Linked DNA regions of Homo sapiens. The protein of the gene in region 1 interacts with the protein of each later gene in a biochemical or structural test. Each region holds a gene or a part of one and is shown on either strand. Other genes may lie near its edges.

Region 1 (8,158 bases):
GTTCCCAAGGAGCAATCTGGAGGAAGGGAAGAAGCACAGACATGTGAATTCATGACATCATGAAAGAGCATGCCGAAGAGCTGCATGGCTCCTGTGGAGACAGACGAGCCGGGGCTAGAGGCAGAGGTGTGCTAGAGCCAGCTCGTGCCTGTTCTCAGGAACCGACTGCACACCTCTTCCCAACTCTGTGTTTACTGACCTCACATTGATAGCTTAAAATTGGCCATGGGGGAATATTTACATGGGGAAATAGGCAAATGCTACAAACCAGAGTCCTTTCCCCCTTCTCTGCCCTTGCTTGAGCCAGTTTTTAAGCATTCCCAGCAGCACTGCTACATGGGGAAGCCTGGGCCGCAGAGGTGAAGCTCCAGCTGCCCTTGAAGGATGGACAGGGCTTGGTCATTTCCAGAGTGTGACTCATCTGCCTCCCATGTGAGCCTCACACTGTGCTGCGGGTATGCGGGTCAACCCGGATTTTCATTTTACAGGACAGGAAACGAAGACTCTGGTAGTTAAGAGATTTGCCCCTTGAAAGCCCCGTCCCCAGGGCTAGGACTTAAACCCCAGCATCTGACCCTTTTTGCTGGACAGTGCTTCCCAAACTGTCCATTCACAGATTTTCTTCCTGATTTTAAATATCTATACTCTCATCGTTTAGTAATTTTTCCTTTAAATAATGTTTTTACTTACAATGAATTTATTTTGAAGAGGAAACATTTATCACACTAGTATGTTATCCATTTACAATCAATTTTAAAAACATTTCATTTAAAATCCCATCTCATGTACCCTGATGACACTTGGGGAAACACACCCGAATCTTCCAGACAGGCAGGAGAGTGAGAAGCACAGACTGCGTGTATTGGGGCATGTTTGTTGTCTTCACTAAGGCAGAGGGAAATGGGGTCAAAGTGACATTCCAAAGACTGAAATGAAGACTCAAGGCTTCAGAGCCGCCCCTTAAAGCTCCAGCCCCTTCTGTGCAGGTTGCCTGCACCAAGACCACCCAAAGATGCCCTCCCCACTCCCCACACCCCCCAGTACATACACAGAGGAGACCCAGCCTTTTCTGGACAGCACAGCTGTCCACAAGGCTGACAGATCTGGGTGTGAATCCCTGCTGAGGCCATTGGGAAAGTTGCTTAACCTTGCTGAGCCTCATTTTCCTCATTTATAAAATGGGAAATGGTTACACCCGCCTCATGGGGTTGTCGGAGGACCAGTAAAATGGATACGTACGGATATAGAATGGAAAAAAGCACCTAGCAGAGCGCCTGCACCCAGTGTGTGCTCAGGCGTCCTATGCTCACCCACTCTTACTTAGGGAGAGTGCATTCCATGATTGAGCGGTTCAGACAGCAGCTCAAGCCAGGCAGTGGGCATGGACAAGACGGCTCCTTTCTCTTGAGTTCCACAAATCATCGGGCATCAGTCAGAGTTGGGCAAACACAGTTTACCTTGAGCCTGACCCCAGAGAGATCCAGAGTGAACACACGGGAAGTGGGTGCACTTTGGAAATCTCCTGGCCCACTGCCCCCCAATTCTAGCCTGCACATCCATGTCCCTCTGGGCTATTTTTAAAATGCCATATCAGATCCGGTGAATCAGAATCTCCAGGAGAGAAGGAGCCCCACTGTCTCTTTGAAAAGCTCCCTGAGCAAATCAGATACAGCCTGTCTATAGCTGCAGGGACCATTGATCTAATTCAGGCCCTGGTTTTACAGAGAAGGAAGCCAAGGTCAGATATGGAAGTGATTTTTGAGATAGCGGCAGGGCTGGGACCTTCATCTGGGCTGCCTTCAAGTGAACCCAGAGGTGTTGGCAGTCTGGCCCCAGCTGGAGGAGAAGCTGAAGGGGCACTAGGTGGCCTTGCGGATGATCAGAGAGTAAGGCGCGTCCTGCCTGGAACACTGTGTCCATGGCTGATGTTCCTGTAAACTCATCTACCTTGGATTCACGTGGATTCCCAGGGCGAATTCCCTGGTTATTCAACCTCCACCCCCGGGCCCCATTTCCCTCTGTCCCCCAAGGCTCAGAGGGGCCTGGGCCACTTTTTAGGGCTAAGCAACAAAGGGTTAAAGCCTGGTTCCCAGCAGCTTCTGCCACCAGGCAGAGCCCATGGCCAGCAAGCCCCGAGCTCATCACTCCCTCCCTGGGCATACAGCATTAAAGGCCCTCTGCTCGGGGATTTGATGTGACATTCCATAGGCATTCCACACTCTGCCACCTGCCAACACACCCTGGCCATCCGTCCCAGGCATGGAAGGCAGCACCAGGAGCCGAAGGCTGTTTGCCAGATGGTGTCTTCTCGTCAGCACACTTAACCGCAAGGGGTGACATGCGGGTGTGCTGAGAAAGGAGCCCTAAAGTCCCGATGTCGCAGTCACCTCCAAGACACGCATTTTCCTGTTGTTCATTTCCAGTTTAGCAAAGCCACCGTATGAAATCAAAGATCAACACCAAAGATAGACGTATTAAGAAACTGTGTGAGTTAGCGCAGAGCAGATGCCCCAAGAATAGCACCCAAAACAGTAGTGTCCAACCTTGGCTGCACCAGAAACCCTGATGCCTGGGCCCCACCTGACGAGATGGCGCTGCCGCTGGTCTGGGCCGTGGCTGAGGCTTCAAGGTGTCTAAGAGCTGCCCGGGAGATTTTACTGTGCAGCCTGGGTAGAGAATCAGGATCTTAGAGCCTCTTCTGTGGCCAACAGAAAACACAGACTTGCATTCTGGGCCTTACTTCTGCCTCCCTCGTTTTTAAATATTCCTTCTCTTTTAGTTCCAACATATAACACTTTTGCTGTATTTTATCAATCTTTGCAAGCCACTTGAAATTCTTCCTAGAATAAGGCAAAATAGAGAACACTTAACACATTAAATTAAAAAGCAGCTTATAAAGCACACTGACAAGCAAGTTAATATCCCCATTAGTTAAAAGAGAAACTGAGGCTCAGAGCTCAAGACTTCATAGAAAACAAGTCAGGGTGGCACAGTGAAGCTCAGAAGTGTTGGCAATGGAGCCGTCTGTGGGCAACTGGTTCCCATGTCAATCCTCCAGCCAATGTTTTTGTTGTTGTTTGTTTGTTTTTGAGACCGACTCTCTGTCACCCAAGCTGGAGTGCAGTGGCACAATCTTGGCTCGCTGCAACCTCTGCCTCCTGGGTTCAAGTGATTCTCCTTCCTCAGCCTCCCAAGTAGCTGGGATTACAGGTGTCCACCACTGTGCCTGGCTAATTTTTGTATTTTAGTAGAGACCGGGTTTCATCATGTTGCCCGGGCTGGTCTCGAACTCCTGAGCTCAACTGATCCACCCGCCTCAGCCTCCCAAAGTGCTCCGATTACAGGCGTGAGCCACCGCGCCCGGCCCTCCATCCAAATTTACATTGAACACTGACAAGGGTCAAAGCACAGTGACCTGGTGATCCAGAATGCCTCTGTGTTTAGGGTAGCAGGGGCAGTAGGCTGCAGTTGTGGTGGTGGTCAAGATACCAAGAGCATTGTTCATTCACTGCCGACTACGGGCCAATCAGATTCATGGGAAAGATCTCATTTATACTCAGAAGCAGCCTTGGTGAAAGATCATTACATTGTGCTTTGTAACCTGGACCTGGGGTTGTAAGCAGTCCTACCTTGCCGGATTGTTATGAGTAAATGAGTAAATGAGATTAAGTTCTTAGCTCTGAGGGTCATGCTAGGATTAAATGAAGTAAACAAATGTGAGGACCACTTTAAATGGTACCTGGCACACAGTAAGCGCTCAGCAATATTAGCACAATTATGACTTAAGAAGGTAAGGGGTAAAGTGCTCACAGCAACCCACTGGAGCTCAATAAAGGGTAGCTATAGCTATCACCATCATCATCATCATCATCATCATCACTATTATTACAATTAATTACCCCTCTGCTTTAGGTGCGGTTCAGAGAGGTTAAGTGACATGCTTGCGCTGGCCCAGTGCTGAAGGGTAGAGCTGGTGTGTAACCCATGTACCCCTGACTCTGAGCCTCCCAGTTTCCCCACTGCCCATGCTGGGCCCCTCTCTAGCTAAGGACAGCTTGCGTTGGCTCAAAGCTCTCTGCCCATTCCCCTGCTGTTGGGCTAGATTCAGGAAGGACATCAGAGCCAGGGCCAGGTGGTATGGCAAGGCTGCTGCTCTGAGGAAACTAGAATCCTGGAGTGGGAGCCCAGACCTGGGGCAAGGATGTCAGGCTTCAGATACTGGTGGGTCCTAGGAACAAGACAAGAGCCCAGTGATTCGGAATGAGGTCCAAGGTCAGAGACAGCTCAGCACCTGCCACACTGCTGCACTGGGTCTTCCTGGAATGACCCTGAGCTGGATCTGCTCCGGTCTCAGGGCCCAGACAGGAAAGGCTAAGCTGGTAGTTGTGGCCTCTGCATTGGGGAGGGGACAAGGAAGGGGTAGGGGGCCATTCTTCCAGACACCTACGGCTCTATCAGACAATAGTCACCTTTGTTCCTCTTCATGAGGTGCCGCTTGAGCAATTATACTCTGAGAATCCAAAACGTGCCTGTGGGAGAAGTGGGAAGAGTCAGACTGTTTGGTGGGGTCACCCCCTTGTCCTCCTGTCCTCTGCCCCACAAAATGGGCTGGGAAGAGGAGTGATGATGTGCAGTGGGGCTACCAACGTGGCCGCTCCCATAGTTGGGAGGAGAGGGGCATCGTAGAAGGCTTGGCCCTGGACATCCAGAGACCTGTATTTTGCTCTTGTGCACCACCCACCTTCTGTCCAACCTCACTCTGTTCCCCACCCCAAGCCTGGGCTTCAGGTTTACTCTGTGTAAAATGGGAAAGCTGGACGCACTGATCTCCAGAGCCTGTCCGGCGTTACACATTCACTTTCTGATTGGCAGAGTCCTGCCGCAGTAAGATGATTCACCACATAACTGAGACAATGCTCAAGTTCCCACATTTCTGCCACTTTCCCTTGGTTCGTGGAGAACTGCCGGAGACCAGCTGTGACCTGCCAGAGATACCAGCCCCATCTGTCCAGCGGCCCCGGGGCAGCCCCTCTCACTGTTCTTTCCCGTTCTTGGGCACGTTACAGCTGTTAGCAGAGCATTTGTTGGCCGTGGCCGCCATCCAGGGTGAGGCCCAGGCCTGCCTTTGACCAGCACCTCTGCAGAGCAAAGTCAGGCCTCCTGTGCCTACACAAATAGAAATTAGGAGGCAATTAGCCCCCCGGGTGTGTGAATTTCCTTTTGAGGTTTTAGAGTCAGATTTTAGCCAAACACAGCATCACTAACAATCATAATACTTTCCACTGAGATCCCAGCAGGAGGTCGCTGGCATCAGATTTCCAGGAAGCCTGTGTGCCAGGAGGCCAGAGGCGTGGGAATGGGCCTGGTGGCACCTGCTTCTCTCCCCTTCCCCCACCGCCCCACCCCCTGTAATGGCCACCTCCTTGGAGTCCCACAGGAGGCTGTGAGGTCACCTGTCAGCAGGGATTGGATGGATTAGGGTCTGGAATCATATTGGTGCAGGAGCTTGTTCTTGCAGGTGGCAGGGCTGTAGGAGAAGAGAGCCAAGAGAAGGGGTAAAGAGTCCTGGGGTTGAGCCCCCAGAATTGTCTTATGACCCCTGATTAGTCACTTCGGCTCTCTGAGCCACATCTGTTAAAAAGAAGGCCACAGGCCTGCTCCGGCCACTCCCACCCAGGGCTGAAGTGAAGGTAAAATGGGCAGGCAAGTTAACACATTATGAAGACTGCAAAACCCCGGGATATATTAACTGTCACCCTGACTGCTACACAAGAGGTAGGGGCATTGTTAAGAGTGTAGCTTTGGGGTCAGACTGCCTGGGTTCAAATCCTGGCTCCATCACTTACTGGCTGTGTATCCTTGGAGGAGTCACATACCTTCTCTGGGCTTATGTCTCCTCATCTCTGAAATGAGGATATTACAGTACTCACTTCAGAGGGCTACTGGGAGGATTTCACAGATGAATAGAGGTAAAGTGCTGAGATCAGTGCTCGTGTTTTAGGGAAGAGAGGAACTGGTGGTTGCAGGGAGCTCAGGCTTCCGCAGTGGCTGACCAAGTTCTCCACACCCAGAAGGTGAGGCAGAGAGACTGGGAGAAGCTAGCGTCAGCCTTCGGGGAGGAGGCGTTGAGACTGACAGGAGAGGAGTGTAAGTGACCTCATGGTCACAATGGGCTGGTTGGGGCCTGGGGCAGTAGTAGTTGGGGCCAAATTAGTTGGGGCCAAACACATTTGTCCCCTTTTGTCCTCAGGATCTCGTGGCTCCACTGGGGTCCCAGGACAGCAAGATAGGGACAGCTCAGCCCTGGAGTCAGAGGAGGGCACACACCCTGGTTCCCCTATTCTGACTGTATGACTGGGCAAGCCCCTTAATCTCTCAGAGTCTTGACTCTTCTCATCTGCAAAATGGGAATGATGAGCCTTGCTTTAGGGGTTATTGTAAAGATTAAACCCAATCGCACTTGTAAAGCCTTTAGGAGCCTCCTGGCACACGGTGGGCTCTGGGATCTGGCTGTCCCTGTCCGTCCTCCCCCAGAGAGAGCAGGGTCTGGCTCCAAACTTCGCCACTAGGCTCTACTGCCTCCTGCAGGGAGGAGGTTGGACATTCATTGGGTTTGGGGGCCTTCCAGGCAATTCCTCCAAATAACTGAGCTGGCAATGGGCAACAGCGCTTAGCCTGAAATAAATTAGTGGGAGCTTCTTGAAACCCTAGTGCAGTCTGGCTGAGGTTTTTAAGAACTCAGACTTCGGAGGCCAAGGGTTCTGGGTCTGAAGCCCAGCTCTGCCCCTTACTGGCTATGTGACTTTGGGAGGGTGGCTGAAGCTCTCTGAGCTTCAGTTTCCTTATCTGTAAAGCGGAGACGGCAGCCGACCCACCCTGCCCAGTGGGGTGAGAATGGTTGACCCGCGGCGCCCCCTGCCGGTGGGATCCGCGTCGCAGCCCGCGGTCAGGGCGACCAGCCGAGCCTGGCGCCCGAGCTCTCCTGCTGGCGGGGCCGGCCCTACCCGTCCACACCCCGACCCTCCCCTCACCCGCGCCCGCCCCTCGACCCGGCAGGATCGTGCAGATGCTGCTGCCGGTGACCAGCCGCACGCGCATACGCCGTAGCGGCGTCAGTCCGCTGCACCTGGCGGCCGAGCGCAACCACGACGAGGTGCTGGAGGCGCTGCTGAGCGCGCGCTTCGACGTGAACACGCCGCTGGCCCCCGAGCGCGCGCGCCTCTACGAAGACCGGCGCAGCTCCGCGCTGTACTTCGCGGTGGTCAACAACAACGTGTACGCCACCGAGCTGCTGCTGCAACACGGCGCCGACCCCAACCGCGACGTCATCAGCCCCTTGCTCGTGGCCATCCGCCACGGCTGCCTGCGCACAATGCAGCTGCTGCTGGACCACGGCGCGAACATCGACGCCTATATCGCCACGCACCCCACCGCCTTCCCCGCCACCATCATGTTCGCCATGAAGTGCCTGTCGCTGCTCAAGTTCCTCATGGACCTGGGCTGCGACGGCGAGCCCTGCTTCTCATGCCTCTACGGCAACGGCCCGCACCCGCCGGCCCCGCAGCCCTCCAGCAGGTTCAACGACGCGCCCGCGGCCGACAAGGAGCCCAGCGTGGTGCAGGTGGGCAGCGCACGCTGGCGGTGGGGAGCACGCCTTTTGGGTGTGGCCCAGGGACGCGCGCGCGCATGGGAGGCGGGCGGGGCCGGGTGGTTCGCGCTCCTTGGGAGCAGCGTGGACTAGTGATTAACACCCTTCGGGGGAAGTGGGGCCAGCTTTGGAGGCAGCAGAGCACGGTGGTTAACCTGCGTCCTGGGTAGCGTGGGTTAGCGCTTAGGGCGCTTTGGAGGGAGCTTTGGAGGGAACTAGGGGTTAGCTCACTTTGGAGGCAGCGGAACCGGTGGTTAGCACACTTAAGAGGCCGCAGAACTTAGTGGTGCATTGGAACGGTGAAATCCTTCTTGTGGTCCACTGCGTTGGGGAATTTAAGGAACCAATGATGGAGCGGAGAACTCTGCCAAACTAAGAGGCTCGTCACCTCCAGCAAACCTACACCTGGAATGCGATGTGAAACAAGCACGATCCGGAAAGGCATGTCAAGAGCAGGCTGGTGTAGGGTCAGGTCAGAAGCAGAAAGCCAGCGACCCAGAGGCAGGACAC
Region 2 (17,159 bases), on another chromosome or scaffold:
TAGAGCCAGGAAAAAAACAGATTTTATATTTGGATTTGTCATCTAAAAAGAAACTAAGATTTACTAATATTTAATATACAAATTGACAGTAGAGTATGTTTATAACTTATAAATATATATAAATACATATATAAATATATATATATATGAGGAAGGGGCACATACAAAACTTTCTGCTAATAGGAATGACTGGAGCAACAGGTGAGACCCCTGAGATAAACGACCCCTTTTGGCTGGGTTTACTACCCTACACTAAACAAGGGGCTGGATGCCGTGGCTCACGCCTGTAATCCCAGCACTTTGGGAGGCTAGGTGGGTGGATCACCTGAGGTCAGGAGTTCGAGGCCAGCCTGACCAACATGGTGAAACACCATATCTACTAAAAATACAAAATTAGCCAGGTGTGCACATGCCTATAATTCCAGCTACTTGGGAGGCTCAGGCAGGAGAATCTCTTGAACCCGGGAGATGGAGGCTGCAGTGAGCCGAGATCATGCCACTGTACTGCACTCCAGCCTAGGAAACAAGATTGAAACTCCAACTCAAAAAAAAAAACAAACAAACAAACTCAAGGAGCATACCCCATAGGCAGCCTCCAGTTTCAGAAAGCCCTTGGTAAACCAGCCCTGCCCACCCCTCCACTGCCCCTCTGACCTGAGCATCAAGACCTCTAAACTGACACACTCGTCTGCTCCTGTGTAAATGTCTGTTTGCCTGCCTAATTCTAGTCACGCTTTAGGTCTTAGCTGAAAGGTCCCTTCCTCCAGGGAACCTTCTAGATTACCCATACCCAGCCTAGGGGCAGGTGCTCCTCCTTTTCAGAGGGCTTGGCACCTAGATCCTTGCTACTTACAGCACGGTGCACAGACAGCAGGATCTGAAGCTGACTGGAAACGCAGAATCCCAGCCTACACCCCAGCACCTACTCAATCAGACCTGCATTTTTAACAAAGTCCCCAGGTGATGAGCATGGGCCTGAAGGTTTGAGCAGCTCTCCTCTGCATGGCTCTCCCTGCTTGCTTGTCTCTTCTCCTCTGAGCAGTATCTGAGGCAAGCAAAGGACATGATCCTCTCATTCCTGTTGTCCTAGCACCCAGCACAGGGCCTGGTTCAGAGATGGGCTTTCATATATTTGTTGAATGAGGAAAGGAAGAAAGGATCTTGGGAGACATCTTCATCAGACGTTCTGAACTTGGAGAAAGGGAACAGCTAACACACCAGATGACAGCAATAGGATTCCAAAAATATCTGGACTGGCCAGAGAATAGACAGAAGACAAGACAAAGTCCTGGACTTGGGTCCAAAAGCACAATATTCATAGTGATAATGACAACACTGTGCTATAACTTAACCTCATCAAATATAATGCTCCCAGCAACTCTAAGATAGCAACTATTTTGCTCTTGCATTTTATAGACAGGGAAGCAGGCACAGAAAGGTTAAAGCAGTGGACTAGAGTTGCACAGCTGGTATCAGGCAGAGTGCGGATTAGAATCCAGACAGTCTAGCTTCAGACCGAGGCCCTGAATCACTAGGCTACATCCAGTTTTGCCTAGGATATGCTACCTGGAAACTGATGTAGCAAAGTTGGCTGGGTCCGGTGGCTCACGCCTGTAATCCCAGCACTTTGGGAGGCCGAGGCAGGTGGATCACGAGGTTGGGAGTTCGAGACCAGCCTGACCAACAAGGTGAAACCCCATCTCTACTAAAAATACAAAAATTAGCCAGACATAGTGGCGCACGCCTGTAATCCCAGCTACTCAGGAGGCTGAGGCAGGAGAATTGCTTGACCCCGGGAGACAGAGGTTGCAGTGAGCCGAGATCACGCCACTGCACTCCAACCTGGGCGACAGAGCAAGACTCCATCTCAAAAAAAAAGAAAAAGAAAACGCAAGGTGACTGGCACCCTGACCATGGAGCTACTGGAGGCAGGGCCTAAAGGCTCCAGGCCCTGGGTATCTGCTCCCCTAAGGAGCAGGGCAGCCATCCTCAACTAAGCCAGCAGCCCACTCCATGGTACCTGCCTCACAGCACAAAACCAGGACCCAAGAGACACAATTTGGCTCCAAATCAAAGCCCTCCTTTAGCTCAGACTCTCCAAGAACGAAGGCGGCTGCCGACTGGCATGCTGGCTCCGCCGTTGCTGGGAGAACTCCACAGAGGCCCAACCACCATCTGGAAGTGATTTGGCCCAGAGATTCCTGAAAGGGGTGGGAGGCTGGAATGACCAGACGCCTGGAGCTCCCTGTCCAGCTTGGAAACAAAGCTGGTGTGAATGGGCCCTGGAGGCAGCCATAACATAGCAGGGGGCAGCCCCTTTCAAGGAGGTGACACCCTCTAGGCAGTCCATAGCCGTATTTTAGCAAGTAGGATCAACCTTAGCCAACCAAGCTGTTCTCCCCAGAGCGCGCTGATTTCAAATGCCCTTTCAGTGTGCAAACCTTTCCGGCATGACTTTTGAGATTATTAAACAGTGCCTTATTTAATTAACAGGCATTCACAGAGCACTTACTATGTACCATAAACTGTGCCAAGCACTTTAAAAATTATTAACTTGTTTAATCTTTATAACAGCCTTTTAAGAAGGTAGTTATTATCCCCATTTTAGTGATAAGGAAACCAAGGCACAGAAGTTTCTAATAGCTACTTAGTGGCAAGTGGGATTTGAACCAAGAATCCTTGCTCTTAACTACTACACAAGTGACATTGAATGCTAATGTGCCACCTTGTACATGGCCCACAACTTGTTATTAATAATTCTGACAAAGCATGCTACTTTGCTACTTTTTTTTGAGATGGAGTTTTGCTCCTGTTGCCCAAGCTGGAGTGCAATGGCATGATCTCAGCTCAACACAGCCTCTGCCCTTGGATTCAAGCTATTGTCCTGCCTCAGCCTCCCACGTAGCTGGGATTACAGGCATGCACCACCACGGCCATCTAATTTTGTATTTTTAGTAGAGATGGGGTTTCTCCATGTTGGTCAGGCTGGTCTCAAACTCCAGACCTCAGGTGATCCACCCACCTTGGCCTCCCAGGGTGCTGGGATTACAGGCATGAGCCACCACGTCCGGCCAACTTTGCTACTTTTTAAGCACTCTCTGTACTACCCAAAAGACATGCTGGCATCTGCTAGACATGCAAGAAAGAGCAGAACTTAAGGTTATTTGGAAATTATTTTGGTAGTAGTAGCACAAAAGGGAGAGGAAGGAAAAGGAGCTGACTGGACCAGTGACCCACCACCCTGGAAGCTGCCTAGTGACCCGAAGTCTTGGGAACACGCACCCTGCCTGCTCTGGCGCTGGCCTGGTTTAAGTCAGTCAAGTAAACTTTAGGGTTAGACCACATCCTCTGAAAAGGAAACAATTCCTTTCTCTAAAGGCCCAAAACAAAACACACCACCCAAACTTCTAGGCCTTGATCATCATTCTTGGGCTGAGAGACCCCTTTTCCTCCCAGCTGGCTGGACTGCCCCATGTCAGAAAGGTTTTTGGAAAAACAAGTAAATAAAACTGCCAACTCCTGGCAAACAGCTGGAATTAAAGACACTGAGTCCTCACTATGAACTGCCCATCACATAACAAGAAACGTAAGGAAATTTTCAACTTTTGGATGGCGCCTAGGGGCCTACCTTACAATGAACCACAAATGTGAATCAATAGCCAGGGTTGTCTTTCAGTGAATTCTAGGCAGAAAAGCCAGAGTCCTCTGGCAGCTGTTGAAACACCACCTATCTCAGAGCTGGAGGCATGTACACAATTCTAATGACTCCACAACTGTCTGGTCTTATCCAAAGCATACAAAACCCTGTATTCATTCAATGATACCTTCCCTGACGATGGAATAAAACATCATCCATTGGGTAGTAGGAAATCTCAACCAACCAACCAAAACACAATGAGGAAAACACAAGAGGCAAACTGATCCCACTTAATTCCCGGCTGACTCTCAACTTGTGAGACCTTCATCACAGCCCAGAGGATTCATCCTGCCAATCATGGAAGGCCCTGACATCCCTATTTTGTCCAAGGTCAGAGGTTCAGAGTGTGGGTATCCAGCCACCACCCTAACACCTAAGACTTGCAAACCTAGTGTTGCAGGGACCCTCTGATGTGGAGAGAAAAGCTGTATTTTACTCATCTCTGAAACTGGAAGGCAAGTCAGTTAAGGCTCCAATTCAACAGCTGGGCAGACCTGGGTTTCAGACACCATTTACTAGCTAGCTGGGTCACCTCCACAAGTGGCTTCACTCCTGTTTCCCATCTTTAAATAAAGATAATAATACTAACCATGGCAAGAGTATGATCAACCAAACAGAAACAAACAACCAGGCTGTTCTCCCCTAATTTTGAACGTCCCTTCGGTGTGCAAACCATTCGGGCATGACTTTTTTTTTTTTTTTTTTTTTTGAGTCAGAGTCTCGCTCTCCCAGGCTGGAGTGCAGTTACACAAAGACCTCGGCTCACTGCAACCTCCACCTCCCGGGTTCAAGCAATTCTCCTGCCTCAGCCTCCCGAGTAGCTGGGACTACAGGTGTGCACCACCATGCCCAGCTAATTTTTGTATTTTTAGTAGAGCTAGGGTTTCACCATGTTGTCCAGGCTGGTCTCGAACTCCTGACCTCAGGTGATCCACCCACCTTGGCCTCCTAAAGTGCTGGGATTACAGGCGTGAGCCACGGCATCCAGCCCTGGCATTACTTTTGAGATAATTATTAGACAGCACCTTATTTAATTAACAGGCGCCATTTTCTAAGCAACACATGCCCAGGACAGTGTTAAGCCCTGAACTCTCTAAGTGACTTGCAGAAGCAGATCATTAGAGATAGGGCAGTAGTTGCTGTCAATCAATGATTAGCATGAAAATTCAATGGGGTGATCAACAGAACACACTTAACACCCAGTAGGTGCCCCCAAATTGAAGCTAGTGTCATTGTCAGCACAATGTAACACAACCTAAGCAGTGAATATATGAACCTTAGTCCAAGCTGGAGGTAACTTTGCCTTGAAGGATGAAGGACCATTACCCACAACAGCCTCAAGAGCTTAGGGAAGAAGCCTCCTGCTTTATCCCCACAGCAGTCCTGGCACTTGCCAGGGCTCTCTGTGGTCTCCAGAGGCTGGAAAACCTGTTTGTTGCAAGATCTCTCGGGAGAGCAATTAGGCAGCCAATGATACAAGTCATAAATGTGGTCACACCCTTTAACCCAGGAATGTCACTCTGGGGAATATGATCCAAGAAATCATTAAAAAGGAAAAAAATAGAATGCAAGTTGTGGTAGGAACAGGAAGAAGCTGCCAACAGCCCACAGGCCCAGCACAGAGGAAGGGAAGCTAACTAACCCTGGAACGTCGGGACAATGGGAGTAGCTAGGGCCTGAGTGGATTCGAAAATAAAAGGAGGACCGGGCTGGGCGCGGTGGCTCAGGGCTGTAACCCCCGCACTTGGGAGGCCGAGGCGGGCATATCATGAGGTCAAGAGTTCGAGACCAGCCTGGCCAACATGGTGAAACCCCATCTCTACTAAGAATACAAAAATTAGCCGGGCGTGGTGGCATGTGCCTGTAATTCTAGCTACTCAGGAGGCTGAGGCAGAAGAATCGCTTGAACCCGGGAGGTGGAGGTTGCAGTGAGCAGAGATGGCACCATTGTACTCCAGCCTGGAGACAGAGCAAGGCTCCATCTCCAGGCGGGGCGGTGGTGGGGAGGGGGAGCAGGGAATCAGGAGAACCATGTAAAAAAATGTAGACAAAATCTAGAATGAGACCCACAGCCCCGGGCACTGATGAGAGACAGTGCTGGAAGTAGCTGCTGCCTCTGTAAACAGTGGGTAGATCAGGCAGTCTGTGATTTGCTAGTGCTGCGGTTTGGTTTGGTTTTGTTGTTGTTTTAGAGATTTCATGTCGTATTTGGATACTTCTGGTTTACTTTAAGTTTCTTTATTCAGTTAATTAAATAAATACACATTTTTAAAACAAAGAACAGATCCAAATTGAGCCCAGCTGGGCCTTGGGATTCTTCAGAGGGGAGGCTGGTTTCTGAATGGTAAAGAATTCCAGGAGATTCTGAGGTTCTCCCTCCCCAGTACAGGAGATGGACCCCAGAAAGAAGACAACAGCGTGCCATGCAGATTCTTCTGCAGGGAAGCCACCCTTGGGGAGGGGGAGGGCTGCTGGAGATCAGCTGGGTGGTGCGGCTGCCATCTGGGCCCAGGAAGCAGGAAGCAGCCTTACCTGCCAGGACAGGTGTGGGGGAAGGGAAGGGTGAGGCCCTAAGGCCCAGGGGAGGCTCAGCCTAGAGGGAATCCCTTTTCCACTGGAGAAAGTCCTGGCAGCCACACCCATCTCCCTTTCTTCCTGTCACTAGGGTCACTATAGTGACCTGGTTTCCTCAGGAAGAGACCCAAATCACAGGCCAGGGCCAGTCCCTGGTTCTCCTTAGGAAGAGATCCAGACCCAGAACCCTCCTCTGCCCCAACCCACACCCACCCACCCACATACACACACACACATACACACACCCATACACACGTGTAGGTGGATACACATTCTCTGCATACATTCCGTGTACATGCAAACTCTTTGCATATGCACATGCTATACACACATGCTATGTGTGTACACACGTTCTCTGCACAAACGCCCACATGCACACACACATCACAGCCCCTACCATCACAGCCCACACTATCAGTAGCCTTGTGGCCCTCTGGGAAGCCTCCAACTATCTCAGACCACAAGGGAGACTTCATCCTTATTCTTCCTCCCCAGACCAGAAGGCCCAGTCCAGCAAGAGACACCAATTCCCTCCCTCCTTTCAGGAAGACCCTGGTGTAGGTTTGGGAGAGGAGAGGAAAACAAAGCCTCCTTCTAACTGTTGCCCACTTCCTTCAGTTCTCAGCTGGGCCCTACTTGCTGACCTTGGACAGGTCAATTAACCCTCCGGACCCCCTTATCTGTAAAATGGGTCTAGCCTCACCCCAGATGGCAGGATGCGTAGGGACGGAGATAACTTAGAAGGCTGACGGTACACAGTGGACGCTAGTTGGGCTCCCTACAAGACAGCAATTACTGTTACCACCACCATCTCTAAATTATAACTTCGGCAGCAAGGAGTGGGTTCAACCTGCGGCGCGCGGCCAGAGCTGAGCTGGGAGCAGAGAGAGCGAGGACACACACCCGCGCCTACCCTTGCAACCTCGGGGCCCACACCCATTCCAGCGACGGCAGGGGAAGGTACCAGGTCTCTGTCTCCACCTGGGCAGGGAGGCCCCAGGCGCAGAGAACGGTTCCTCCTCAGGTCTCACGGCCCGGCCTCCGAGCCAACGCCCATTCAGCTGCCTCTGAGAGCACCAACCTGGGCGCAGCAGGGAGAGCACTCCGCGGAGCATCTGACCCTAGGGCCCGCCCCCGGGGACAGCGAACGAGGGTTTCTAGTCCCCTAGCTCCCATAGGGGCGCCCCAGGTGTAGAGAAATGCAACAACTCCACCTCTCCTCCTGTGACCCCAGCCCAAACCCTCAACCCTTAGCCAGCCAAAGGTGCACTGCTGGGGCGGATGGCGGGGAGCGATCACAACAGGTCCCATCCCAGGGGAAGACACCGGGGAGGGGGTCTAGGCCCCCTATAACCCACCCCTGGGGACGACTCCCCCTTATCTCCGAGGTGGGGGCGCGCTGCGGGAAATCCTCGCCCTCCGCAGGGGTGCACGCGCGGGGGCGGGTCGGCACCACAGTGGGCGCCTGGGCCCGGCCAGAGAACTCACCGATGGACACGAGCTTGATGCTCTCACGGTCCAGGAACTCGAGCGCCACGGACACATTCTCGAGCTGCATCTGGCGAAAGGTGGGCCGCTGATGGTACTTGCGGTACATGCGCTTCTGGCTGAGCACCTCGAGCAGCGCGATGAGCCGCAGCCCGTCGCTCAGGTCGGTCTGCAGGTTGCCGATGCGTTTGTTCACGCACTTGAGGTGCTCGTTGCACCAGCGTGTGAACGTGTTCTGCTGGATCTTCTTCCAAGGCGCGTCCTCAGCTAGATCCTTCTCGGTTACCGGCATCCTGGTGGCGGGGAGAGCGCAATGCGCAACGAGCTGCCGGGGACTGGTGTTTGGAGGCCCAAGGGCCGAAGGAGCGAGAACCGAAGCGGAGCGGGAGCGGGGTTCGAACTTGCTGCTACCGGAGCCACGGCCGGTGCTGCTCTGCGGCCGCCCGCCCCTGGCCGCGCGAGGCGCCTGGCCCCGCGCCTGCGCGCTGAGCCGCCCCGCCCCCAAGCCCCGCCCCGTCCCGACCCTCCCGCGGGAGTTCCTGGGCCACGCTCGCCTCCTGCCGCCTGCCGCAGGCACTGCGCCCCACTGCGTCCTGGGACCCGCGCTCGAAGCCCACCACCCCAGCAGGATGTAGGGCTGCCTGAATCACCCGGTCAGCCCCGGGGTGGGGGGACCCGCGGGGGCTGGGAGCCGGACAGAATGGGTCGGGCCTCAGTGGGACTTGCGGGAGGGGCGCGCGGGGCGGAGGTCTTCATCCACATATAGATTGAATAAAATTCAGTAAGGGCTTTTATTGAGCTCCGCCTGTGTACCAGCCATTCTTCTCAGAGCCTGCTAACCAGTAGTAAATCAGACAAACGTATTGCACAACCTCAAGGAGTTCACACAGCCTAATGGAAGAGAAAAGTGTAATTCCACCATAACCAACAGCCCAGTAGTGGTGGTAAAAATGAACAATAAGGCTTGTTGCATGTCTTAGTTTCCAGTTACTGCTGTAACAAGTTACCAAAACTTAGTGTCTTTGAAAACACACACCCACAAATGTATTATCCTTCAGTTCTGTAGGTTCGATGGCCCACACAGGTCTTGCTGAGCTAAAAACAAAGTGTTGGCAGGATGCATTCCCTTCTGGAGGCTGTAGGGAAGAATCTGTTTCCTTGTGTTTTCTAACTTCCAGAAGCTGCCTGCGCGCCTGACTCCTGCCCCTTTTCTCTGTGAAAGCCTGCAATGGGCTGGGCACAATGGCTCACACCTGTAATCCCAGCACTTTGGGAGGCCAAGGTGGGTGGATCACCTGAGGTCAGGAGTTCGAGACCAGCCTGGCCAACATGGTAAAACCCCATCTCTACTTAAAATACAAAAATTAGCCAGGTGTGGTGGCGCGTACCTGTAATCCCAGCTACTGGGAAGGCTGAGATAGGAGAATCGCTTGAACCTGGGAGGCAGAGGTTACAGTGAGCTGAGATGGTGCCATTGCACTCCAGCCTGGGCGACAGAGCAAAACTCCGTCTCAAAAAAAAAAAAAAAAAAAAAAAAAACAGAAAAGCAAGCCTGCAATGTCAGGTGGAGTCTCTCAGACCTCAGACAGTCCTCTCTCCATAGGCACATCTTCCTTTTTTTTTTTTTTCCTGCGATGGAGTCTTACTCCGTTGCCCAGGCTAGAGTCCAGTGGTGCAATCTCGGCTCACTGCAACCTCCTCCTCCTGGGTTCAAGCAATTCTCTTGCCTCAACCTCCTGAGTGGCTGGGATTACAGGCACCCGCCACCACGCTCCGCTAATTTTTGTATTTTTAATAGAGACGGGCTTTCACCATGTTGGCCAGGCTGGTCTTGAACTCCTGACCTCAAGCGATCCACCAGCCTCTGCCTCCCAAAGTGATGGGATTACAGGCATGAGCCACCTTGCCCAGCCTTTTTTTTGTCTCACTCCGTCTCCCAAACTGGAGTGCTATGACTCAATCTCGGCTCCCTGCAGCTTCAACCTCCCCACACCTGGCCCTTTTAAGGACTCTTAAGATGACATTGGGCCAGCTGGTTAGTCCAACATGATCTCCCTATTTTAAAATCAGCCGATTAAGAACCCTAATCCTGTTTGCAACCTTAATTCCCCTTTGCCATTTAAGGGAATGTTCACAGGTCCTGAGAGTTAGGATGTGAACGTCTTTGGGGGCTATTACTCTGCCTACCACAGCATACATTGAGCACTTACTCTGTACTCATCCAGGTTCTGTGCTAGGTTCTGAGATATGGCAGAGTCTCAGGCCAGCCCTCTGTTGATAAAAGCCTGAATAATTACAACAGCAAGCATTGAATGAACACCTGCTGTTCCTCTGTGCCAAGCACAGTGCAAAGCAATTTCTTTCAAGTCGGGTGCAGTGGCTCACACCTGTAATCCCAGCACCTTGGGAGGCCAAGGTGGGCAGATCACCTGAGGTCAGGAGTTCGAGACCAGCCTGACCAACATGAAAAAACCCTAGCTCTACTAAAAATACAAAAAATTAGCTGGGCGTGGTGGCGCATGCCTGTAATCCCAGCTACTTGGGAGGCTGAGGCAGGAGAATCGCTTGAACCCAGGAGGCAGAGGTTGTGGTGAGCCAAGATTGCACTCCAGCCTGGGCAATAACAGTGAAACTCTGTCTCAAAAAAAAAAAAAGAAGAAATAACCGAGTGGTTGAGCGGCTTGCCCAGGCCACACAGCACAGTTAGAACCATAATGCAAGTCTGTAAGAGAGGCACAGGGTGCCCTGATACCAGAGAAGGGGCTCCTAACCCGGTTTGGGAGAGGAGTTCAGAGCAGGCAAGCTTCTGAGGAAGAGAGGTTGACCAGGACAGAGGGCAAGGGCTTGCAACTTTGAGGGTTGCTCAAAAGAGGCCAGCCAGTTTATGGGTAGAACCATTCTGTAACAGGTTATTTGCATACAATCAATGCCAGAGTGCTTTGTTCAGACAGATGAACTGACTCACTGGAAATGGTCACAACAGCCTGGGGGAGAGAATATATTACCCGGCCCTGGCTCACAATAGGGACTCAGTAACTACACTCATGTGTTGCTTAACAACAGGAATGCTAGAGGATTTTGTCATGATAGGAACACCAGAGAGTGTGTTCACACAGACCTAGATGGTACAGGCGACCACACATCCAGGTTAGAGGGGATCACCTGTTGCCCCTGGGCTACAAACCTGTACAGCAAGTTACTATATTGATACTGTAGGCAATTGTTACAATAAGTATTTGTGAATCTAAACATTAAAAGGGTATAATAAAAATACGATATAAAAGATAAAATTGGGCGGGGCGTGGTGGCTCACACCTGTAATCCCAGCTCTTTGGGAGGCCAAGGCGGGTGGATCACTTGAGATCAGGAGTTCGAGACCAGCCTGACCAACATGGCAAAACTCGGTCTCTACTAAAAATACAAAAATTAGCCAGGCATGGTGGCAGGCGCCTGTAATCCCAGCTACTCGGGAGGCTTGGGTAGGAGAATTGCTTGAACCCAGGAGGCAGAGGTTACAGTGAGCCAAGATCGCACCACTGCGCTCCAGCCTGGAAGACAGAGAGAGACTCCATCTCAAAAATTAACTAACTAAATAAATAAATAAAAAGATAAAAATAGTCTACCTGTATGGGCACTTGCCATGAATGGAGCTTGCAGCACTGGAATTTGCTCTGGGTGAGTCAGTGAGTGAGTGGTACGTGACTGTGAAGGCCTAGGACATTACTGTGCACTACTGTAGACTTTATAAACACTGTACACTGAGGCTATACTAAGTTTATTTTTTTAATCTTTTTCTTCTGCAATAAGAAATTAACCTTAGAGGCCGGGCACGGTGGCTCACCCCTGTAATCCCAGCACTTTAGGAGGCTGAGGCGGGTGGATCACGAGGTCAAGAGATCAAGACCATCCTGGCCAACGTGGTGAAACCCTGTCTCTACTGAAAATACAAAAACTAGCTGGGTGGGGTGGCACGCACCTGTAGTCCCAGCTACTCGGAAGGCTGAGGCAGGAGAGTTGCTTGAATCCGGGAGGTGGAGGTTACAGTGAGCCGAGATCGCGCCACTGCACTCCAACCTGCCAATAGAGTGAGACTCCGTCTCAAAAAAAAAAAAAAAAGAAAAAAGAAAAATAAAAAAGAAATTAACCTTAGCTTACTGTAATTTTTTAATTTTATATATTTTTTAATTCTTTGACTTTTTGGCTTTTGTAATAACAGCTTAAAACACAAACACATTATAAGCTGTACAAAAATTCTTTCTTTCTTTAAATCCTTATTCTGTAAGCTTTTTTCTGTATTTAAAACTTTTTATTGGCCAGGCACGGTGGGTTACGCCTCTAATCCCAGCACTTTGGGAGGCTGAGGTAGGCGGATCACCTGAGGTCAGGAGTTCGAGACCAGCCTGGCCAACACGGTGGAACCCCATCTCTACAAAAATACAAAAAAAATTAGTGGGGCATGATGGCGAGTGCCTGTAATCTCAGCTACTTGGGAGGCTGAGGCGGGAGAATGGTTTGAACCCAGGAGGCAGAGGTTGCAGTGAGCTAAGATGGTGCCGTTGCACTCCAGCCTGGGTGACAGAGCAAGACTCTGTCTAAAAAAAAAAAAAAAATATATATATATATATATATATATATACACACACACACATACATACATATATAAAACATACAATTATGTACAGTATATAATATTTGATAATAAACAAGTATGTTGGCTGGGCACAGTGGCTCACGCTTGTAATCCCAGCACTTTGGGAGGTCGAGGTGCACAGATCACCTGAGGCCAGGAGTTCGAGATCAGCCTGGTCCAACACGGTGAAATCCCATCTCTACTAAAAATTTTTAAAATTTTATTATCGACCTCCCTGGGCTCAGGTTATCTTCCCACTTCAGCCTCCTGAGTAGCTGGGACTATAGGGGCGCACCACCATGCCCAGCTAATTTTTGTATTTTTTGTAGAGACAGGGTTTCGCCATGTTGCCCAGGCTGGTCTAAAATTCCTGGGCTCAAGCAATCCTCCTGCCTCAGCCTCCCAAAGTGCTGGGATTACAGGCGTGAGCCACCACACCCAGGCAATAAAAAGTGTTTGTTTGTTTGTTTGTTTGTTTGTTTTATTTTTTTGAGATGGAGTTTCACTCTTGTTGCCCAGGCTGGAGTGCAGTGGTGCGATCTCAGCTCACTGCAACTTGTGGAGGTGGCCCTCCACAAGTGTGAGCCACCGCCCCCGGCCTGTGCTATATTTTTACTGGACTGCAGCACAGAAGGTTATGATTACACCAGCATCACCACAAACACAACAGTAATGTGTTGTGCTGTCTGTTGTTGACAGAAATGTCATTATGTACACATGACTATATTTGAATGCTTGTTCCCCTCATTAGTGATTAAGTGATAAGATTTGCTATTGGTCAGCTGGTAATGACTGGACAAAGCTGGACTTGAACCTGGGTCTAACTCCAAAGGCTGTATTTTGCCCAAGGGTCCCCGTGGTCTCCCCAAGCCTGGGACATGGTTTTGTCCATTCCGTGGGCCCCTGAGCAGCAGATTCACTCCAGGCAGAGTTGGTAACCTCTTCCTCCCCCACGACCAAGGCCCTCAGTTCCTCATACTTTCCTCCATTCGCACTCATCCATCAAAACTTATCAGCCAGTGTGACTCCCAGGGCCCTCCTCCCTGCTAGGTGAAATGAGCAAATGTGATCAACTCCGCCCAACAGCCACTAATGTGCTAAGGCTCCCCTCTAAGTGTCATTCAAAAAGTAAAAAGGTGCCAGGCACGGTGGCTCACACCTGTAATCCCAGCACTTTGCGAGGCCAAGGCAGGTGGATCACCTGAGGTCAGGAGTTCGAGACCAGCCTGGCCGACATGGTGAAATCCCATCTCTACTAAAAATACAAAAATTAGCCGGGCATGGTGGTGCATGCCTGTAACCCCAGCTACTCCGGAGACTGAGGCAGGAGAATCACTTGAACCCAGGAGGCTGTGGTTGCGGTGAGCCGAGACTGCGCCATCGCACCCTGGGTGGCAGAGCAAGACTCCATCTCAAAAAAAGAAAAAAAAAGTAAAAAGAAACAGGTAAAATTAATGACAATTATATACTTAACCCGATAGTAGGGTGACCAAATGACCAGGTTTGCCCAGGACTAAGGTATCTCCTGGGATGCAGACCTATCAGTGTTGCAACCAGTAAAGTCCCTGACAAACCAGAACAAGCTGATCGCCCTACCCAGAAGATCTAAAATGCTATCATTTCAAAATGCAATTGATATTTTAAAGTATTTTTATATTTTTACTTTGTTTGGGTACTGTCTTTGAAATCCAATATGTATTTCATACTTAAAAAACATCTCAGCTTAGACTGGCACATTTCAAGTGCTCAACAGCCACCTTTGGCTACTGGTGGCTTTCCTGTGGGTCAGTGCAGGAGTAGAGATAGGCTTGATGTTGAAATAAACCAGTGAATAAGTTGGCAACCCATAGTGGTCTCACCAAGATCCTAACCTTGGGACCTCCATTTCTTTCTTTCTTTTTTTTCTTTTATTTATTTATTTATTTTTTAATCTGTTTTTTTAAAACAGAATTTCACTCTTTTTGCCCAGGCTGGAGTGCAATGGCATGATCTCAGCTCACCTCCGCCTTCCAGGTTCAAGCAATTCTGCCTCAGGCCCCCCAAGTAGCTGGAATTACAGGTATGTGCCACCACACCGAGTTACTTTTTTTTTTTTTTTTTGAGACGGAATCTCTCTCAGTCCCCTAGGCTGCAGTGCAGTGGCATGATCTCCGCTCACTGCAACCACTGTCTCCTGGGTTCAAGCGATTATCCTGTCTCAGCCTCCCGAGTAGCTGGGATTACAGGCACCTGCCATCATGCCCGGCTAATTTTTGTATTTTAGTAGAGACAGGGTTTCACCCTGTTGGCTAGGCTGGTCTTGAACTCCTGACCTCACATGATCTGCCCTCCTCAGCCTACCAAAGTGCTAAGATTACAGGCATGAGCCACCGCGCCCAGCCTAATTTTGTATTTTTGGTAGAGACGGGGTTTCACCATGTTGGTCAGGCTGGTCTCGAACTCCTAACCTCAGGTGATCTACCTGCCTCGGCCTCCCAAAGTGCTGGGATTACAGGCATGAGCCACTGCACCTGGCATATTTATTTATTTATTATTTATTTTTAAGTTGCAGGGTACATATGCAGATGTGCAGGTTTGTTACATAGGTAAACATGTGCCATGATGGTTTGCTGCACCTATCAACCCATCACCTAGGTATTAAGCCCAGTATGCATTAGTTATTTTTCCTAATGCTTGGACTTCCATTTCTATATGTGAAACCCACTTGCACAATTCAGGAATCCCAGCTCTGTGAGAGGGGTCCCAGGTGAACCTTCATTCTGTGGTTTCTCAGTGTCCTGGGGTCCACTATTGTAGTCATTATATTAATGTCAGGATATTTGTAATAGTAAAAGTAGTGGTGGCCATAGTAATAGAAGCTTCCATTTCTGGAGTACTGATGTTATCTCATTTAGTCTTCACAAGAACCCTAGGAGGTGTTGTTATTATCCCCATTTTACAGGTAAGGCAACTGAGGCTGAAAGGGGTAGTCATATGCCTGAGATCACAGAGTGGCAGAGCGTGGATACTAAAAAAGTCCCCCGGGAACAGTTATGATTAACTGCAAGGACCTGGAGCTACCCAGAGTTTGTTTCCTTACAGGTAACCGCCATTGTTAACATGTCTTCCAGGAGTTTCTGATAAATGAGAAACTGGGGGCATAGCACTTAGCAAATAAGTATCAACTGAGGGAGTTAATACTGCTATTATCATGATCATCACTGCACCTTCATGACTGAACATCCAAAGAATGCAGGCTGAAGGTTCCAGATTTAGAAGCCCGCTTTCCAAAGGAAATAGAGATAGAGAGTCAGGACTTGCAAAATGAATTCATGTCCTCCCCAGGGTGGGGCCCCAGGAGTCCTCACCCCAGGGCGGGGGCCTTCTCAGTTGTAATTTTACACCAATGTCCACACCCTGCCACCAAGAAAGAGAAGCAAAATATAAAGAAGCATATTTCCTTTGCCTCCACCCTGAGAGGAAGGAGGAGCTGGTTTCTCAACAGCTCCCTAGACAGGTGGGTGTGCTCACCCCCCAGCCCCAGTCTGGCTGTGAAGGTCCTGAGACCATCTGGGTAGGGTGCTGGGAGGAAGCCCACTCAGGTGGGAAGAAGAGGAGGAGTGCTGAGAGGGCAGGCCTTCCCCACCAGGTAGCAAAAGATAATGGCATTTTGCAGTTCCAGATTCAAAATGGCGCCACCAGCCAGCCTTGACCTGAGATAAGGCAGGGGCTGCTGGCAGGCAGGCTGCTTGAAGAAGGCATGGGAGTCCGGCCGGGGGGCTCATCCTTGCAATCCCAGCCATTCGGGAGGCTGAGGTGGAAGGATTTCTTGAGCGCAGGAGTTGGAGACCAGCCTGGGCAACATAGTGAGACCCTGACTCAAAAAATAAAAAAGAAGGCACAGGCCTTCACTCCAACCCTCCCACTCTTAATCCAGCAGCCAAGGTGGAGATCAGAAGGGGCAGGGCAGAGCAATTTTCATGACAGCAATTCTCTACTGTCTGTTTATTCACACAGTGGGCTAAGTGATTGTATCTATAGTCTCTCCTTTGATCCTCACAGATGTAAGAAATGCCACACTAAGTATCTTAACATGGGTTATCTTTTTTCTTTTCTTTTTTCTTTTTTTTTTTTTTTTTTTTTTTGGAGACAGGGTCTCACTCCGTCACCAAGGCAGATTGCGAAGGTGTCATGGCAGCTCACTGCAGCCTGGACCTCCCAGGCTTAAGCGATCCTTCCACCTCAGCCTTGTGAGTAGCTGGGACCACAGGTGCACATCACCACCACGCCCAAATATTTGTATTTTTTGTAGAGATAGGGGTCTTTCCATGTTGCTCAGGCTGGTCTCAAACTCCTGGACTCAAGTGATCTGCCTGCCTCTGCCTCCCAATGTGTTGGGATTACATACGTGAGCCACCGCATCCTTTTTTAAATCTCAAGAATACTGTGTGTGTTACTGAGTGTGATACAATAGTCCCCCCTTATCTGTGACACACATGTTCTAAGACCTCCAGTGAATGCGTGAGGCTGCCCACAGTGCTGAATCCTATATTTCCCATGCTTTTTCAATCTGATAACTAAGAGGACCATGAGCAGGTGGCGTAGACAGCATGTGTACACACTGGACAAAGGGATGATTCACGTCCCAGGCAGGACAGGGTGGGACAGGGTGAGATTTTATCACGCTACTCAGAACGGTGTGCAATGTAAAACATGAATTCTTTCTGGAATTTTCCATGTTTTTTTTATTGTAGTTAGCTGTAGCAAACTGAAACCATGGAGAGTGAAACT

The links.
Region 2: of the proteins of ASB2 (region 1) and FLNB, one has a biochemical effect on the other in vitro, tested with the Homo sapiens proteins (one study listed by BioGRID).

What each region holds. Positions count from the first base shown.
Region 1 is NC_000014.9:93,938,571-93,946,728, reverse strand, and holds part of ASB2 (ankyrin repeat and SOCS box protein 2), read left to right. Parts: intron 1-7,056; coding exon 7,057-7,621; intron 7,622-8,158. UniProt on the Homo sapiens protein: Substrate-recognition component of a SCF-like ECS (Elongin-Cullin-SOCS-box protein) E3 ubiquitin-protein ligase complex which mediates the ubiquitination and subsequent proteasomal degradation of target proteins.
Region 2 is NC_000003.12:57,999,457-58,016,615, reverse strand, and holds the start of FLNB (filamin-B), read right to left. Parts: upstream 8,195-17,159; 5' UTR 8,052-8,194; coding exon 7,760-8,051; intron 1-7,759. UniProt on the Homo sapiens protein: Connects cell membrane constituents to the actin cytoskeleton. May promote orthogonal branching of actin filaments and links actin filaments to membrane glycoproteins. Anchors various transmembrane proteins to the actin cytoskeleton.